Linked DNA regions of Homo sapiens: region 2 is linked to region 1. Evidence: fine-mapped expression QTL. A gene starts in region 1. The other region holds a variant in brackets. All regions are shown on one strand. Distances are between the middles of the regions. Region 1 holds the start of CDV3 (CDV3 homolog). Region 2 has its middle 37 kb from the start of BFSP2-AS1.

Region 1 (5,375 bases):
GTTGACTGCCATAGACTGGACTTGACAAAATGTTAATTTCAAATCTTCTAAACTACCCAATTTTTAAAAATTACTATTTTTTTGAACTTTAAAAAATAACATGTTTACAAATATAATTCCATTCCTATGAAGTTTTAGAAAAAATTATGGTGTTAGAATAGTGGTTATGTTGAAGGTGAATGCAGTGAGTATGTGTTAGGAGGGGAACCTTGTTCTGTATCAGTAATACTCAGTTTCTTGACCTGGTGCTTATTGCACAGGTTGGTTGCACTGTGTGAACACATAAAACCTCTATCTCTCTGTAAGTATGATATACTTCAATTACAAAAACATATATTCACTTGCTTATTGGAGAGGATGTGAAAAACATCCACATTACTTTTGAAACCAAAACTAAGTACAATCACCGATGTTAAAAGTAAAAATTTTGAAGCGACAAAATCCACTTTAGCTGTCTCAAATGAAAAGTCCTAACCAGAACTGGAAGTAGGCAAGCTCTCACAGGATTTTAGAGTCAGCAGCTAATTTCATGAGCACACGGAAGGGCTGCCTCCATGGAGTGAGAAAGAGTAGACAGAACCCATTTGAGTCCTAATAAGCATATCTAGAGCACAAGGCTACTATGATGCTGCTTTGGGGCCAAAGGAAAACCTAACTTGTATCCAATATCTATCCCAAAGGTTATCTAAACACATTTGTAACCAGACTATACCTTATTTGCATTGCCTGAACCCTGAGGCCGCTGTAATCAACCTCTTTTTGCTCCAATTCTTTCCATTCATCTTCGTCCTGTAAAACAAACGCCATTTGATCAATTAAAGCTATTTGTAGACATATAACTAAGCAAATAACACACTACGAAAAGTGGATCAAGTGGCTGGAACCTAAACTAAGTATGTACTTGTCTTCTGGTCAAAGCCCTTGCTTCGTTCTGGGGCAAACTAGGCTAAATGGAGGACAAACATGCTCGTAGGCTAACACTATACTTCCGCTGGGTTCCTGCATGGGAGCTGTTACTTTAAGCAACTAAGAAAAGCCGAAGGAAGAAGTCAATAGGAATTTCACAACTACATTTCTACTTCAACCTTGCCACCGAGAGTTTTCTTTTTCTTTCACGGGCTTAGAGACTAAGTCATCACAAAAGAGCTGCTACAAATGCGGCTGCTGAAAGCGAAAATTCAGCTCAAACTACTGGGCTGAGGTCAGCACACGGAATTACTCAGCCTAGACGTCACCCGATAAACGCTGCTCTGTGCTGGGCACTGCGGCCCCAGACCTAGTGCCCCCGGAGGGTGGCGCCGCCCGGGCCTTGGCTAACGCCGAGCGACGCGGGGTGGGAAGGGCGGCTCCACCGCGGATATCGGAAGGGGTCCCGGCCCTGGCGAGCCCAGCCCGAGGTGGAGAGCCTGCGTCACGTGGCGGCCCGCGCCCGTCCGCCCGGCCTCCGCGGCCCCTCCCGGACGCTTCCCCGGCAGGCGGGGGCGGGCACATGGGGCGCCGGCGCGCGGCCCGGGCCCCGAGTGCCGGCCTCCCGGCCCCTCACCTTCGTCACAGCCTTGGTGGCGGCCCCTGGGCCCGCAGCCCCCGCGCTGGCGGTCCCGCCGTCACCCGGCCGGGTCCCCGCGCCCGCCCCGCCGCCCGCCGCACCCGCGGCTCCACTGCTTCCGCCGGCGCTGCCCGCTGCGCCCGCGGCACTCGCCGCCCGGTTGCTCCGCTCCTTCTTCTTCTTCTTGTCCCTCTTGGCAAAGAAGTTGTCCAGGCTCCGCTCCTCCGTCTCAGCCATGGCCTCGGCCTCCTCGACCCGGATGGGTGGGGCCGGCGGCGGGCGCGGCCCGCGGGGCTCCGAGCTCGGGGTCGAGGCCGGCTCTGCGCTCACGCTGCCGGGCGCGGCGACGCCTCAGCCCCGCGGGGTCGCCGAGGCGTGCGCGGCGAGACGGGCGGCTCCCCCTGCGTGCTGGCGAGCGGTGGTACGGTCCGCCCGGGGGCTCGCGCGCCGCCGCTGTCGCCCGAGGCTGCCGGGGCTGCCGCTGCTGCTGCGACGGCGGAGCAGGATTCCGCTCTCCCCACAACCTGAGGGGAAAAGGCACGCGCGAGCCAGAGGTTCTGGCGAGAGTGCTCGGCTAGCAGCGGCGCGTGCCGGAGGAAGAGGCGCGCGCGCAGGCCTGGAGAGGAGGGGAAGGGAGTGGGGAGGGGAGGGAGAGGGAGGAGGGAGGGCGGGCCGCTAGAAGAGAGAGGAAGCGCCTGCGCCTGCGTATTTTGCTCTGCCTGCCGCTGTGGGATCGCCAAGGGGCGGGCGGCGGGAGGAGATGGAGGCGGAGCTGGAAAGAGAGCCAATCAGGTGCCAGGACGAAGCTCTTAGGTGACAATCCCTGACCCAGACGGGGCGGAGTCCAAGCATGGGGGCGGGGAGAGGAGGGCATATGCAAAATAAGTGACGTGCCGGGCGACTCCGGTTTCCCGATTGGCCGAGGGTTTAGTCTTGAGGGCGGGCATGTTGAGGGCTGGTTGATGACTTGGCTAAAGAGGTCCAGCAGGAGGGGCAGTGGGTTCCTTTTGGACGCATGCGCAGGATGCACGTGTGTTTCCTGGCCCAGAACAAACCGTGGCCCCATAGTAGTCGTTTGAACTGTCGCGAAACGGACAGGCACTGCGTTAAGCCAACTGTGTTAAAGATTGTTCCTCTCCTCTGATCGCTTCTGTACTTCCACCCCCTCTGGAGTGGCAACCATTACTTTTCTTCTTTACCGGTTGATTGTGAAAGTGAGAGGAGCAGTGAGCCTGAAGTTTAGGTCCCATTTACTAAAAGATCTTTCATAGGCTGGTTGGTAGGTAGAAAGGGATTTTGTCTGAACTCCACCCTCTGGATTATGTTTACCAAGGTCAAGTTCAATAAATCCTATCGTCAAGTCCCTAATCTGTAAAGTGGGTATACTATTTCTTACAAGATAGGGGGATGGAGGGAAGAGAGTCAACATTATTAGCTGCTCAGCACATTGCTTAACGCCCTGACTTGAGTCTAGATGATGATACAGTTTATCCTTAGCTTCTATCCCTGATAAAAGGAGGGGACTGTCTTATCATAGGGGTGGAGACCAAAATGCCCAGGCGAAAGCCAGGTTTAAATGGGTTTAAAGCCCATTTAAATACCCTTGGGGCCTTGAAAATGAAATGAATTCTATATGCAAAAGGTGGTCTAAAGTAAGCTCTTAAACTTTCTACTTCCTCCTTCTAAAAGCAGAAGAGGGAGCTGTCACAACCATTGAGGAAATGACTCAGACAAATGTTGGTAGCCATATGGGGTAGATAGAATCCAGCCAGTAAATGGAGAGACTTCTTCGTCTTTTCCTTTACAGTTACCCCATTAAAGTTTCTCTTTTCCTACCCCCTACTTACACTGCTATTAAAGAATTAACTTCTGGCTGGGCGCGGTGGCTCACGCCTGTAATCCCAGCACTTCAGGAGGCCGAGGCAGGCGCATCACCTGAGGTCAGGAGTTCGAGACCAGCCTCACCAAAATAATGAAACCCCGTCTCTACTAAAAACACGAAAATTAGCCGGGCGTAGTGGCTAACGCCTGTAATCCCAGCTACAGGTTGAGGCTGGAGAATTGCTTGAACCCGGGGGTGCGGAGGTTGCAGTAAGCCGAGATCGCCTCATTGCAATCCAGCCTGGGCAACAACAGTGAAACTCCGTCTCAAAAAAAAAAAAAAAGTCTAACTTCTGAATGTCAAAAGAAATCAAGGACCTAGCCTTGGCCAGCAAGTAGCTTGAGCTTATACATATACTATTCCCCAAACATGAACAGCTCCCAAGGTGACTTCCTTCTATGACAACATATATCTTCCTGTGATGCAGGCCAGGTTCAGTACTGCCCATCACCATCACCCTCCCTTACCATCGCTAATCAAATTTATTTTCTTTCTTTTTTTTCTTTCCTTCTTTTTTCTCCCTTCCTCTTTTCTTTCCTTCTTTTCTTCCTCCCCCCTCTTTCTTCCTTCCTCCCTCCCTCTCTTTCATTTATTTATTTATTTATTTACTTACTTATTTTTTGAGGCAAAGTCTTGCTCTTGTCACCAGGCTGGAGTGCAATGGCATGTCAGCTCGCTGCAACCTCTGCCTCCCAGGATCAAGCGATTCTCCTGCCTTAGCCTCCTGAGTAGCTGGGATTACAGGCACCCGCCACCACACCCAGCTAATTTTTGTATTTTTAGTAGAGACGGGGTTTCACCATGTTGGCCAGGCTGGTCTCAAACTCCTGACCCTCGTGATCCACCCACCTCAGCCTCCCAAAGTGCTGGAATTACAGGTGTGAGCCACCATGCCCGGCCCTCTCCCTCTCTTTCTTTCCTCATCTATGAAGCACTTATTTTGCTATATTTCGGGCAAAGTGCTTTATTCAAAAGTGAGTAATTTGTGATTCCTGCATTCAATTCCCTTATAATCTAGAAGAGAAGATCTAGATATAAATAAGTTTCAGTTATTTATATCTTTCTTAAGTCCTTATCAATTCATCATTGTCTTGAAAGAATTAATGACTTGAGAAAATACACAGAAGGAACAGTAGTTGAGGGCTGACGCTGCAGAATTTCCCACTACATTTTTCAGTGTGATTGATGGCATGATCCCAGAACTTGATCATGTGTAAGAAATTCAGGTCAGGCCAGTAGAGAGACCAGTGTCTTTGTGGTTGTGTCATTGTTTGTAGTAATTCTCTCCTCTGTGAAGCTGGTCCCTTCCTCTTTGAATCACCTGCCCTAAAATTGACAGCATCTGTTCCCATCAGTTGCTCCTTTTAAACCTCCCCTACCACCCTTCTCCAGATTGGTTGCACAGTGCCCTGAATCATGCTATCATTATCATCGTTACCAGACACCCCCTCATCTTTGAAGCATCCTTCTGCCCTCTCTCTCTTTTTTTCTTTTTAAGAGGCGGGGCTCAAGCAATCCTCTGGCTTCAGCCTCCAGAGTAGCTGGGACTACAGGCAGGTGCCATCATGTACAGCTGAATTTTTTTTTTTTTTTTTTTACATTTTTAGAGAAAGGGATCTTGCTATGTTGCCCAGGCTGGTCTGGAACTCCTGGGCTCAATTGATCCTGCTGCCTTGGCCTCCTGAGTAGCTGGGATCACAAGTAGGAGCCGCTGTGCCCGGCTCCTCCAGCTCTCTCTTGACAGAGGTGTCTTCCCCTCTGCTGTCCAATGTGTTTGGACCGTCTGCATACTTAAAGCAAACAGACTTTCACTTGTACTTGCCAGATGGAAAACTTGTATAGTAATGCAGACTATTCCCAGGTATTTCTGCACATCTTCCAAGGTTCCTAATGCTGTCTGAACATGGCAGTTTCCCTCTGGGTCCTCTGAAGTGGTGCAATCCGAAG
Region 2 (5,375 bases), 45 kb after region 1:
CATGTGACCAATCCTAAACCAATCACTCACCAGGCAAATGGACTGCAAAGATTAGCTTAGACCAGGTAGGAACTATCCCCTCTGACTGGAGCTGGGTCAGATTTCTTTTTGTATAGGAGAAAAGCAATGGATATTAGGTAGACGACTAGATGCTTCTTGTGTGTGTGTGTGTGTGTGTGTGTGTGTGTGTGTGTGTGTGTGTGTGTGTTGGGGTCCGGTTTGGGGAGTATGAGAGAATAACTGTTATCCACTGTGTCCTTGAACCTCCTGCCTTGAACTGCTTCTCATCCTGTCCAATCTCTCATTTTCCTTTCCTTTCCTGTAGTTAGATGATGTTATTGGTCCCTATTTATCATCCCTTCCTGTATCCACATCCTTTGCAATGTAACTTGGCAGTGTCTTCTCTCTGTGAATTCCACCTGGCTCTAAACTTTGGGTTTGGTTATGTCAGTAATGCAGAAGTGAACACACTTGAGTTCTGCACTTAGGTCTCAAGAGACCTCAGGTGTTTCTGCTTATCTTTGTACACCTCTGCCATCACCATGAGAAGAATATGGCTCCCCATAGCCCACTAGGGAACATGGGGAACAGAGCTGCCCCGGACAAACCCAGCCTAGAGAAGATCCTCCAACCAACCCACAGATGCATGAGTAAGCTCAGCGTAGATTGGCCATACCTCAGCTGACTCACACAAGTGAGCTTAACAATCAATAATAATTGTTAAGATGCAGAGTTCTGGGGTGGTTTGTTACATAGCAGTAGCTGACTGATACACTCCCCACACATCCTCTTCTCTCTCCCTGTTGCTCTCATTTTCTGTGGCTGTTTTTTATCCTAGACTTTGACAATTTCAGAAATTATTATAAAGAAGTTAAACAACAGTAATTCTGAAACAAAGAAGGGAGAAAAAAGTCACCTATAATTCCAGTCCTGTAAACAGCAACTGTTTTCATCTTTGTGTTTCCTCTCGGTCTTTGACTCTACATATATATAGACAGACTCTGATTTACAATGGCTTGGCTTACAATTTTTCAACTTTACTATGGTGTAAAAGCAATACACATTCAGTACTTAGTCAATAAATTCCATAAGATATTCAACCCTTTTTTTTTTTTTTTTGAGATGGAGTCTTGCTCTGTCACCCAGGCTGGAGTGCAGTGGCACGATCTTGGCTCACCACAACCTCTGCATCCCAGGTTCAAGTGATTCTCCTGCCTCAGCCTCCTGAGTAGCTGGGATTACAGGCATGTGCCACTGCACCCAGCTAATTTTTTGTATTTTTAGTAGAGACAGGGTTTCACCGTGTTGGCCAAGCTGGTCTTGAACTTCCAACCCAGGTAATCCGCCCAGCTTGGCCTCCCAAAGTGCTGGGATTACAGGCGTCAGCCACAGTGTGCAGCCTTTTTTTTTTTTTTTTGAGACAAAGTCTTAGTCTGTCACCCAGGCTGGAGTGCAGTGGTGTGATCTTGGCTCACTGCAACCTCCACTTCCTGGGTTCAAGCGATTCTCCTGCCTCAGCCTCCCGAGTAGCTGGGATTACAGGTGTGGATCACCACACCTGGCTAATTTTTGTATATTTAGTGGAGATGGGGTTTTGCCATGTTGGCCAGGCTAGTCTCGAACTCCTGACCTCAAGTGATCAGCTTGCCTTGGCCTCCCACAGTGCTGGGATTACAGGTGTGAGACACTGTGCCCGGCCAATATTCAACACTTTTAAAAACAATTTTTATTTTGATTTTGAGACAGGTGTCACTCTGTCACCCAGGCTGGAGTGCAACAGCACCATCATGGCCCACTGCAGCCTCGACCTCCTCGGCTTAAGTGATCCTCCTGCTTCAGCCTCCTGAGTAGCTGGGATTACAGGTGCACACCACCACGCCTGGGTAATTTTAATTTTTAAAAAATTTTTTGTAGAGACAGGTTCTCCCTGTGTTGCTCAGGCTGGTCTCGAACTTCTGGGCTCAAGTGATCCTCCTGCCCTGGCCTCCCAAAGTCTGGGATTACAGGCCGAAGCCACTGTGTCCAGCTGTGACCGATTCAATTGAGGGAATGCAGTGAAAGTGATACTGTGTGACTGGTCAGAAAATGCCATGAAGCTGCTGCCTGATTCTTTCTCCTGGGAGAGTCAGCCACAAAGTTGAACTACCTCGAGATCACCATGCTAGAGAGGCCACAGATAGATGCTCTCCAGGATAGCCCAGTTGAGTTCCTGGCCAACAGCTAACACCAACTGGCAGCCATCTAGGATTTTTCAGCCCAGTCGAGCCTTTGGATGTTCCAACCCTAGCCACTAAGTCCTCGCAGCCATAGAGTCTTCCCAGCTGAAGCCCTACCCATTGAGGAGCAGAGATAAGCCACCCCACTGTGCCTTGTCTAGATTCTTGACACACAGAATCCATGGATATCATTAAATGGTTATTTTAAGCTGCTAAATTTTTGGGGTAATTTGTTATAGGCAACAGTAACTGGAACAAACTAGTAACATTTTTATGACTCCTGTTAAATTTTACAAATTGCTTTTTGTTGTCACCAACCATATCTGCATGCACGAGTTTCAGTAACACATTTTGCTGGCTTTGAGCCTTTTCACTTTAAAAAATGTCCATCCAATGGGGTATCCTCATATATTTTCATGGAATTTTGGAATTTACTCTCTAGCTGAAGGACATAAACACAGGTGATTGTCTCTTTACGTCTTTGGACATCTGTAAAATTCATTCTTCTTGGGGGGAGTTTTTTCTCCTGAAGGAATTTTGTTTATCTTGGATTTGAAACAGAGCTCTGATACTTATTTGCTTAGTAACTTTGGGCATCTGAGTTTCAGTTTCCTCATCTGTAAAATGGGATAATAATCTTCTGGTTTTTTTCTTCTCCTTATTTTTTTTCTCTTTCTTCTTATTTCTGTCTTTTCCTCTTTCTTTCTTAATTTCTTTCTTGCTTGTCTTATTTTTCCATTTTCTCATAAAACCCAGACTCTTATATTAATTTTCCCTGGAAGATCCTTAAAACTCTGCCATGGATCCTCCCTAAAGTGGCTTGAGAGGCACTGACGTTTTTCCAGTAACAGAGACCAGTAGAGAAGGTGGCTGCTGATTAATTCCATGTCAGCCAGGGCGTCCTGTGCTCTGCATCTAGAATAGGGCA[G/A]TTTCCAAGGTGACCAGGACTAGTGTGTGAGGATAAGGTGAGGCCCTGGAGTTATGAGCTGCCAAACTCATAAACCACACAGGCTTCCCCTGAGCCACGCGTTGCACACTACTCGCCAAGCAATTTAACAACTGACTTGAGGCAAAATGTTCCAACAACATTTAATGATCAGTGCAGCTATAAATAGGATCATAGAACAATTTGGATAGATATTAATATATGGGTTCAGCACTGGAGTGACTAAACCTTGAGTTGTTTTGACCTCAGAGAGCCATCAAAAATGTGCTGCAAGGAACAATTCTGTGGTTGTCTGTGGCAGATGTTTTGTTCCTGTTTGACATGTCCTTGTGTGTGTAATTTACTAACATGATAATAACCTGCTGTTTGGCAGTTTGCAATTTACAAGGTGCCTTTACACACATGTTCTCATTTAATCCTTGGAAGATACGCACTATTACTGAGAATGGGGGGAAACAAATAACTTGCTTCAGGACATCCAGATCAGGACACAGAGAGGGGAGTGAGGTGGGATGATGGTGGTGGTGGTGATGGTGATAGTAGACTCCAGATTTGAGACAAGGACTGTGTGGCTCTCAAATTGGTTTTCCCTCCTTATTTCACCAAAATCCTGATGTTCTTATTTAAAAGACTTGGAATAATAATTCCTCTCCTATCTTCACAGAGGCCAGCCCATTTGGTTCCAGCACCCAGATCTTTCTTTTATTACTTCACATTAAAAGTGGGCTTGCCAGATTTAGTAAAGAAAAATTCAGGGCACTCAGTTAAATTTAAATTTTATACAAATAATAAATAATATTTTAATGTAAGTATGTCCCATGGTGCATTTTATCTGGCAAGCCAGTTAAAAGCATTGTTGGCTGGGCACGGTGGCTCACGCCTGTAATCTCAGCACTTTGGGAGGCCGAGGTGGGCGGATCACTGAGGTTGGGAGTTCAAGACCAGCCTGCCCAACATGGAGAAAACCTGTCTCTACTAAAAATACAAAATTAGAGGGGGGTGGTGGCGCATGCCTGTAATCCCGGCTACTTAGGAGGCGGAGGCAGGAGAATTGTTTGAACTTGGGAGGCAGAGGTTGCAGTGAGCCGAGATCGCACAATTGCACTCCAGCCTGGGCAACAAGAGTGAAACTCTGCCTCAAAAAAAAAAAGAAAAAAAGGCATTGTTATTAAACATTTTTCCCCTAAAAAGTAATGTGGGATTCTTACAGAAAATTATGAGCCTAGTGCGGTGGCTCACTCCTGTAATCCCAACACTTTGGGAGGCCAAGGTGGACAGATCACTTGAGGTCAGGAGTTCGAGACCAGTCTGGCCAACATGGCGAAACCCCATCTCTACTAAAAATAAAAAAATTAGCCGGGCTTGGTGGCAGTCACCTGTAATACCTGCTACTCAGAAGGCTGAGGCAGGAAAATCACTTGAACCTGGGAGGTGGAGGTTGCAGTGAGCGAGCCGAGATTGCGCCACTGCACTCCAGCCTGGGCGACAGAGCTAGACTCTGTCTCAAAAAATAAATAAATAAATAAATAAAATTATGAAAAGCCAGATAAACAAAAGGAAGAAAATAAAAATTACTCTTAATTTAACTAGCTGGCAACAACTGCTGTTAATATTTTGGATAATTACTATGACCTTTTTTCTCGTGCATATATTTATGTGTAAAAATTTTTTAAAAATAGAAAGTGAGATTTGCTGAATATATTTGCTTGATATTAAGTAAATATATATATAGTGATATACTGAAATATATTCAGTAAGTCTCACTTACTTACTGAAATATACTCAGTAATTGAGACTTATTGAATATGCAGACTTGCTTTTTTTCACTTCCCTATATGTCACAAACATCTTTCCATGTCCTCATGTGTTTTTGTAATATTCAAGTGACTGCAAGGTCATCAGTTGGACAGCATACTGTGTTTAGCTAATCCTCCATAGTCAAACCCTTAGATTGTTTCCAGTGGTTTATTATTACAGACCTTGCAATAAACAATCTTCACTAAGTCTCTCTGCACATCCCTGGAATACATTTCTGGCAGTAGAATTTCTAGGTCAAAGGGTAAGCAAACTTTTAAGGTTTTTGTTATATATTGTCAAATTGTTCTCTGGAAAATTTGTGCCAAATTATATTCTCACAAATAATATCTGAACATGCTTATTCCCTTGCACATTGTCAACACTTGGAGTTATTAAAAACAAAAAAGAGAAAAATC

What was found.
Region 2: its variant is fine-mapped to the expression of CDV3 in pituitary (GTEx, PIP 0.98).

Annotation. Positions count from the first base shown.
Region 1 is chr3:133,570,453-133,575,827 of GRCh38, reverse strand. It overlaps CDV3 (CDV3 homolog), which reads right to left and starts at 2,142. Exons shown (of 5, transcript NM_017548.5): 1 at 1,544-2,142; 2 at 713-789. The coding sequence starts at 1,783. RefSeq lists silencers at 1,174-1,563, 1,594-1,703, 1,724-2,263 and enhancers at 2,644-2,813, 2,470-2,971, 2,914-3,153.
Region 2 is chr3:133,525,362-133,530,736 of GRCh38, reverse strand. No RefSeq gene overlaps it. Among named protein-coding and RNA genes, the nearest start is that of BFSP2-AS1, 37 kb to the right of the region's middle. The variant G/A (reference allele first, on the strand shown) is at 3,145.